Regions from separate parts of the Homo sapiens genome. Here regions 1 and 2 are each linked to region 3. The links come from fine-mapping of genetic effects on gene expression. A gene starts in region 3. Each other region holds a variant in brackets. All regions are shown on one strand. Distances are from middle to middle.

Region 1 (2,764 bases), 200 kb after region 3:
TGAAGTTAATCTCAGAAGTTTTTTTCCTGAGAAGAGAAGAAACCTCTGCGACCAATAACTGCGTGTTGTCGGTCTGTTTTTCGGTACTAATCCCATCACCCACCTAATGATGTGACGCTCCACCGTGTTTTCCAGGCTGTACACATGGCTTTCTTAACAGTTTTCAACGGGTGCCCATGGTTGATATTTATGATTTTTTTCATGATGCTGGCCGGAGGAAATGTCCTGGGGTGGTTGTTAAAGACATCGTCGTGTAGACTGGTAGATAAGGCTATCTAGTAAGTATATTCCCAAAGAGGGTCGTTTTAGTTTCTTTTCTCAGAATCCTGTGGAGGCAGTTCCTACCTATTCATTTTAAGTGCTTTATTTCTCGTTGTTCTTCCTGCACTTTCATTTCGACCTTTGTCAATGTGACCATTCTTGCTTTCTCATTTTTTTGTTTAAAAAATCAGAGTAATGTGGAACTTCAAAATACCAACTTTGGACTATTAAGAAAATACAAACTTACAAGTATAATTAATGAATTAGATCTAATATTATTTAAATAAATATATATATATACACACACATATATAATTGCCACCTTGAAGTAAAACAAAGAGTGCTAAAATAAATAATAGGAGTAAGAAAGAGATCTGCTTTGCTATTTGGCAGGTAGTGTTCTCCAGCTGCAGTGCCCTTGGAAGAGCACGTGGCAGTCACTGTGACCAAAACGGCAGGTAGGACAGCCCTGGGACCCTGACAGCTCCCATTCCTTCCCCTTAACTCTCCCTAGAGCAAGAAAAATATGTTTATAATGGAACAGTTCTCAGTAGACTTTATGAGAAGATTCTGTAGCTTTCGCGCTGAGCAGATGCCTTCTATGTCTTCATGGTTTAGTAGTTTTGCTGCTATTAGGATCAGTGGCTCACAACATACTTGGTACATTCAACCCCATTGCTCCTTTCCCCCACACGCCGCTTCCCCAAGACCCCAACTCATGATACTTCCATCCATCTAGAGATGTGACATTTCAGACTGACTTTTGTGCAGTTAGATGTAAGCATTTTACCTCTCAACCCACACCAGTTCCTTTGGCCCCAG[G/A]CCACACATTTCACCTTAATAGCTCAACACCATACATGCATTTATTTTCTGACTATACAGTAGCCGCAACCAAGGCTTGAAAACTTGTTAAAAGGCCAGGGCCCTATTCATGAGACGCCTGACGGTGCCTTTTACCCTTAGAAAAGCAGGTTGACTTTTCCCCCACTCTAGTTAAAGAGAATGTTGCACACAAAAGAAAAAGGGTGGAAAATCTCAAACACTTGGCAACAGGCAAACAAATTTGATCATCTCCTTTCCTCCTCCTCTTGGTAAAATACAGTATTTATATTTTCCAGCCTCAGAGAAGATAGCAGAACATGATCTTTCACAAGAGAATTATAGACCTGCTTATTATAAAACAGATGTGCTCCCATGGCAAAGTGCCTTCTCCCTCCGCCCCCAGCTCCCTGTCACTGTAGCTTACTTTTGCCTTCGCTGTAATTAATGTATCCGTGATTCCAACTGTCAGCGAGGCCATTCCTAGCACACTGCATTTGGAGACCTGAAGTGCAGTGCCATCTCCTCCCCTTGTAACATGTTTGCCCTGCATACAGAATTTCCTCTCCTAGCTCACAGGCACCCAGGGTCATACCTGCCGAGAGTCAAGGGCGAAATTCTGGATCCCCGTTCAAAACATCTTTGTTTTCACCAGTCCCCATTTAGAGGGCCCTGCTAAATACGAGCAGTCCCTGTGAACTCCTAAGGAGGACTTTCCACCCACATCATTTTCTGCTTATTTTCAAAAGGGAAACAAAAAATCGATGTGTTATCACCATCAGCTACCCAGAGCTGGGTCCATGTCCAGCACTCCTGTTTCCTCTCCTTTTCGTACCACCCTGACAGCTTGGTCGGTGCCAGCCACAGGCCTATGACATTCTCTGCCACCACCACCAAAATCTGATAGGACAGAGTGGAGCCAGCTTAGGAGTTGGGTCTGCCATGAAAATTCAAAATTGCTGTTTTCAGCCCAGAATACCTTGGCGCACATGAACGCCCTTACTGTTTTCAACTTTAACAAATTACTTGGTGCACTGTTAGGTAATTGTTCCACTGCTTAGAAACTGTCGAAACAAAAGCAAATCTGTGGATTACCACCTCTTTCAGACCAAACTAATACCTGCTTTTCCTCGTGTTCCATTTTTCATCCCATATTAAATATCTTGCACATAAAACATATGAAAAAATGGCCAATTAATCTCCTGGAGCTGGCAACTGACTCCGGGGAACCGCTTTTTGCTGAAAGGCTCATTCCCTAGTGTATCACTTGAGGAAATCCCTCCTAAAAGTGCCAGAAACTCATGTGTGAGATCGTCCAACCCTGGTGAAATGTTGGCATCTAACCCCGCAGTAAAGAAGCCAGTTCCTAAAATAGACCTCATTTTGCACCGCGGCAGGAAGGCCACAAAGTACTTAAAAAGCCGTCAACTGGAATGGGGGTAGTGTTCTTTCCAGGCCCGCTTTTTCCAAAGTTAAAAGCCTCTTTATATGAAAACCATGTAAACTCTCAGCAGCCCCCTTTGCTTCACTGCCTTTTCTAGGGAGTGCATTAGAGTCATTTTTACGTCTGTAGTGCTAAAGGGTCACCTAGTTAGGAGCTTTAACATCGGATTCGCTGAGAGGGTCATCGGTTTTTGATTCTTCTAGAGTAGGCCTCCACCAAGAAGGGAATACGTCTAATACT
Region 2 (2,764 bases), 76 kb before region 3:
TTCTAAAAATGCTGATGCCTGGGCCCCACTGAGACATTAATTCTTTTTTTTCTTTTTTCTTTTTTTTTTTTTTTTTTGAGACGGAGTTTCACTCTTGTTGCCCAGGCTGGAGTAAAGTGGTGCGACCTCGGCTCACCGCAATCTCCGCCTCCTGGGTTCAAGCGATTCTCCTGCCTCAGCCTCCCAAGTAGCTGGGACTACAGGCACCTGCCAGCACGCCTGGCTAATTTTTTGTATTTTTAGTAGAGACGAGGTTTCACTATGTTGGCCAGGCTGCTGGTCTCGAACTCCTGACCTCGTTATCTGCCCACCTTGGCCGAGACCTTAATTCTGAAAATAATTACACAATTTTCAAATAATTTCTCTCCTCTGATTTACATTTTACTTAGGTATACTATTTTACTTATTTATTTTGGATATCCAAATATCCCTAATATTTAATAATGATAAAGCTTTATTGGAAAACAAGATTTGGATCCAGGACCAAGATGGGACTTATTGCTTCTTTCCAAATCAAACTAACCACCATCCACAGGCAGAGCAACTATGGATTGCAAATATTCTTTCCTGGGCCAGGACCTGGCCTGGTGACAGAGTCAGGCAGTGAACGTGGCGTGGACAGATGGCCCCAGCAGAGAGAGCCACAGAGACCCAGTGATGGTAACGAGGGGGCTATGACCCATTCCAAACTGAACTTTCTGTTGATTAGGCCACTGAACCATCTAAACACCCGGGAGACATTTACCTTGCTTAGGAACAAGATCATGAGACTATGAGGTCTACACAACTCAGCTGTGCTTAAATTCACCATCAGTGGAATTTATTATTAACAAGTGTTTCCATTCATGATTCGTGAATCTCCTTTTTCTTTGTACTCTGCTTCTCACATCTTCCTTTATTTTTGATTTGTGACTCTACTATTTCTTTTTCTTTTTTTAAGCAAAGAGTTGGAAGCCTTCTGTGCCACACAGAGACTAAATGGATAAAAATTCCTAAGTGCCAACTGTTTAAAGTAGCTTCCATCCCTTCCATTTAGAAAATGCTTTTATTTAGTCTGGATAAGAGCTCCACCCTGTGCTGGCCAGAAGGAAGGCAAGTATGATTTAAAAGCCTCACAAATAGAGATTATTCTGCACTTTTAAAATATGCTCAGCTATGCAGTATATATGCAGGTTAATCTTATAATTCAGCCAGTGGTTATTAAGCAAATATAAATTGTTTGAGATCTTTGTGACACATCCTAAGCATTTCCTAAGAGATAGTGAAGAGAGGC[A/T]TGCCAATTGGTCTTGAGTTAGCCCCAGTGGGTGTGGCCTTTTTGAATGGACAATCCAGCATCTACACTGTGCTTTTTAAAAGAGCTCTGTGTCGGCTGGGAGAAGTGGCTCACACCTGTAATCCCAGCATTTTGGGACGCCAAGGCGGGAGGATCACCTGAGGTCAGGAGTTCTAGACCAGCCTGACCAACATAGCGAAACCCCGTCTCTACTAAAAATACAAAAAATTAACCAGGCATGGTGACTCGTGCCTGTAGTCTCAGCTACTTTGGAGGCTGAGGCAGGAAAATTGCTTGAACTGGGAAGTGAGGCTGCAGTGAGCCGAGATTGTTCCACTGCACTCCAGCCTGGGTGACAGAGTGAGACTCCATCTCAAAAAAATAAATAAACAAAAAAATAAAAGATCTCTATGTCTTCTTCCTCCATTTCTCAACGTCTGACAGGCCCACATGTAATTTATGAAACATTGAGTTCATGAATAAAACAGACCCCACATCCGTGTTCAAACATTTCCTCCACTTCATCTTCAAGCTCAATCTCTGTGGTTTCTCTCAACGAACTGTTTAATATCCTGTACATTTTTTTCTTACCATTATTCATGAATAGTTTTTCTTTTACAGAAATCTTAATCTCTTTTATTTAAAAAAAAAATGGATACCTATTCCAAACATTGTTTGGCTGACTTCCACTGTTCTTCCTTCTCTCTCTAAGTGTCTACAGACCTATAAAGCTATCCTCATCCCCCTCATCTTAAGCTATCTCAAATCAATCTGATTGTATTCAGAGATAATGGAGAGTGTGCAGTGTTATTCCTCTACTGCCCATTTCTGCATTTGAAAGCCACCAACTTGACTCTAAAAATAACACCTGGCTGGGCACAGTGTCTCACACCTGTAATCCTAGCACTTTGGGAGGACAAGACAGCCAGATCACTTGAGCCCAGGAGTTCCAGACCAACCTGGACAACATGGCGAAACCCCATCTCTCCAAAAAAAAAAAAAAAAAAAAAAAAAAAAAACGCAAAAAAACCGCAAAGAAAAAAAATTAAAATAACACCCAAGCTATGCACCTCCAGGTTGCTTCGAATATTTCCCTTAAGTGATGTTTGTCTTTCTGCCTTGTGAAAGTTGTCAGAATCAGCCGGATGCAGTGGCTCACACCTGTAGTCTCAGTACTTTGGGAGGCTGAGGCGGGTGAATCACGGGAGGTCAGGAGTTTAAGACCAGCCTGGCCAACATGGTGAAACCCCGTCTCTACTAAAAATACAAAAAAAAATGTAGCCGGGCCTGGTGGTGCATGCCTGTAGTCCCGGCCACTCGGGAGGCTGAGACAGGAGAATCACTTGAACCCAGGAGGCAGAGGTTGCAGTGAGCCGAGATCACACTATTGCACTCCAACCTGGGTGACAAGAGCAAAACTCAGTCTCAAAAAAAAAAAAAAAAAAAGAAAAGAAAAAGAAAGTTGTCAGAATCAAACTAGAGTGACCAAGT
Region 3 (2,764 bases):
GCTTCTTAAAGAGCAAAGAGAAATTAGCCAGCCTAAGTAAGAGGATGGGCCAGGAGTGAGAACTCTCATCAGAGGGAATCACATGTACAAAGTCCTGAGGCAAAAGAGAATACTGCAAATATTCTCTTTTGGTAATTAAAACAAAACAAAACAAAAAATGTACCTCTGGCCAGGTGAGGTGGCTCACACCTGTAATCCCAGCACTTTGGAAGGCAAGGAAGAAGGATTGCCTGAGGCCAGGAGTTCAGGATCATCCTGGGCAACACAGGGAGACCTTGCCTTTACAAAAAAAAAAAAAAGAGAAAGAAAGAAAAAAGAAGTTAGCCACGTTGTGGTGATGCGTGCCTGTAGTCCTAGCTACTCAGGAGGCTGAGTTGGGGGGATCCCTTGAACCCAGGAGTTCAGGGCTGCAGTGAGCTATGATCGTGCGACTGCACTCTGGCCGGGGCACAGAGTGAGATCCTGTCTCTAGCAAAACAGAAAAAAAAGTACCTCAAATTGCAGGGTTTAAAGAAAGCTTATTTAAACTTTGAATATCAACCAAAGGAAATTTTTTCTTAACTCAAAGCTTAAAGATTTGCTTATTAATCTTCTGGAGGGTGGGAAGGTGGGAAGAGGAATCAGAGTTTTAGATTTCTGTTTCATCCCTGACCCCTTTGACCTTTTTTTTTTTTTATCATTCCTTTGTTCATTCATTTATTCAGATATATATACATTGGGCCTGTGCTAGGTGCCTACTAGATGGTGGTGAGTGAAACTGAAATAGTGCCTGCCCTCAGGGAGTTTATAGGTGAGATGGGTGAGCGTGGGAAAACCAATAAAACTGATAAATAAGTGTGTACTTATAAAGTGAGAAAATGGCTAAGAAGTGTGCTATGATGGAAAACAGACAGGAAACTGCAAGGAAGGTCTGTCCAATCAGACCAGCATATCCCTGCAAAGCGACCACAGTCACTGCAGGTGGGATGTGGGCGGTCTTACCAGGCAGTCCTGCCCGCGTGCACACACACGCACACCCTATTTTGCTGGGAATCCGCAAGTGGGGGTGAAGACCTCACCTCAAAACCACCCCTTTTCAACCTGCGTAGGAAAGGACAGTGAAAACGGATTTTCACTGCAGCCCCAAAACCGGAAATGAGAAGCAATCTCCAGAATAGTCCCACTTTTGGAAAGAACTTATTTGAGTAATTAATTCCCTTAGACAAGGGAGCTGCTAAAAACCAGCCCGATCCTGACATGTTCTAAGTGACATTTTCCAATCGCAAACACCCATTTTGGCGTTGGGTGGAGCAGTGAGGAGACTCCACGACACACGCCATTGCTTTCACAATGTGTACAAGAGGAACTGTATATAAGAAAGCAAAGAAATAAGGAGGCCTGGCGGGTGCGGTCAGGCCTTGCCTAGCTGCCGGGTCCCTCGGGCAGGAAAGACTCGTCCTCGCGGCCTGGAACCTTGTGTGTCCGGCTCTGGCTGCCCGGGCCGCCGGCGGAAGCATTTCAGAGTGGGACCGCGAGAAGCCGCTTGTAAACAGAGCCGGGCCGGGATGGTCAGCGCCCGGGCGGGCTGTCACCGTGAGGCGGGCGGCAGGCTGCGGGAGTCAAGCCCCTCCAGGAGCGGACTGAAGGCCCCGCAGGTGAATGGAGAGTAGCAGCCGGGGCCCAGGTGAGCATCCGTCTGCTTCTGTGCTGCCTGGCCGGCCAGTTTGGGGGATGGGGTGGGGACGACTGCATTGTAAATATCCGAGCAGCTCCCAGGGATAGCAGTGATTTTGCTGTTTCTTGCATGCTCAGGTTTTTATTACGTGCTGGAGATTGTACCACACTGCAATGGCTAATGGGTGAGGGGAGATTACATGATGCATTGTCTGCTTATTTTTGTGAATCAGGTATGTAATAGGAGGAGAAAGTAGTTGAAATAGTAGGTGATCTTGTTGAGTGCGTTATTAGTATCCCTGCCATCCCCGCCTGGGGATTATAAAACCAAACCCCAGCAGAGCTTTTAACCTACATCAGGCTGGGGCTTCCAGAAAACGATTGTTCTTTCTGTCGACTCTGTCCGTTTTTAATGTATAGTAAATGACACCACATGACTGATGACAAGCATGGTTTGGTCTTGTAGGAAAGAATTATTAAGCTAAAAAATCAAGATAAGAAAATCTCACACTCATCCCTTAAACAAAAATAAATTACTACTGAGATATATATTTGGATGACAAATTGAGACTGGTCTGGATGTATACCTTGCAAAGCAAGACAAATTTGAATTTACCAGGTTAAACTGAGATTGAGCCATGCTGTTGTAAACTTATTTAGAAGTTTATTTCTCTCTTCTTTTTTCTTCCTTGGAAGGGACCAGAGAGAAACAGCTGAATTTTTTTCTCTATATTTTAAGTAATCGTAGTGAGTTGTGATTTGTATTTATAAAGTATTTTATTATAAAATACTACATGTAAATTATAATTGGCATACTTAAAATACAAGGCAGTTTTTGACTGACTGACTTCAAGAAAATGCCTTAACAAAAGCTGGGCTATATATCTAGTCTCTAAAAATATCAGTAGACATTTGTAACCTTGGTCACATAGTCTTTTAGACAGGAGATGAATATTAGGTTAAATTGCACCTACAATAGATAGATATACATAGAAGAAATGATACTAATTCCTGATGAGTTTTTCTTTACAATGAATATTTTTACAATGTCATGGTTTATAGCAAAAACTATAAAGCCAGACTACTTCAGTTTGAATTCCTGCTTGGTCAC

Direction of the effects. Positions count from the first base shown, and alleles are read on the strand shown. Sizes are in standard deviations (SD) of each study's normalised expression. Not every link is listed here.
For the expression in skeletal muscle of the gene that starts at base 1,525 in region 3, T is the low allele of the variant in region 2 and A is the other (small effect, 0.15 SD a copy in GTEx).

What was found. PIP is the estimated chance that this variant, and not a neighbour inherited with it, causes the effect. A credible set is the group of variants that fine-mapping cannot tell apart.
Region 1: its variant is the best candidate, but not a certain one, in a credible set for the expression of PLEKHM3 in blood mononuclear cells (TOPMed, PIP 0.90).
Region 2: its variant is the best candidate, but not a certain one, in a credible set for the expression of PLEKHM3 in skeletal muscle (GTEx, PIP 0.74).

The regions. Positions count from the first base shown.
Region 1 is chr2:207,824,888-207,827,651 of GRCh38, reverse strand. PLEKHM3 (pleckstrin homology domain containing M3) reads left to right here. Exons shown (of 8, transcript NM_001080475.3): 8 at 1-2,764. Among named protein-coding and RNA genes, the nearest start is that of FZD5, 56 kb to the right of the region's middle. The variant G/A (reference allele first, on the strand shown) is at 1,084.
Region 2 is chr2:208,100,452-208,103,215 of GRCh38, reverse strand. No RefSeq gene overlaps it. Among named protein-coding and RNA genes, the nearest start is that of CRYGD, 23 kb to the left of the region's middle. The variant A/T (reference allele first, on the strand shown) is at 1,274.
Region 3 is chr2:208,024,288-208,027,051 of GRCh38, reverse strand. It overlaps PLEKHM3 (pleckstrin homology domain containing M3), which reads left to right and starts at 1,525. Exons shown (of 8, transcript NM_001080475.3): 1 at 1,525-1,663.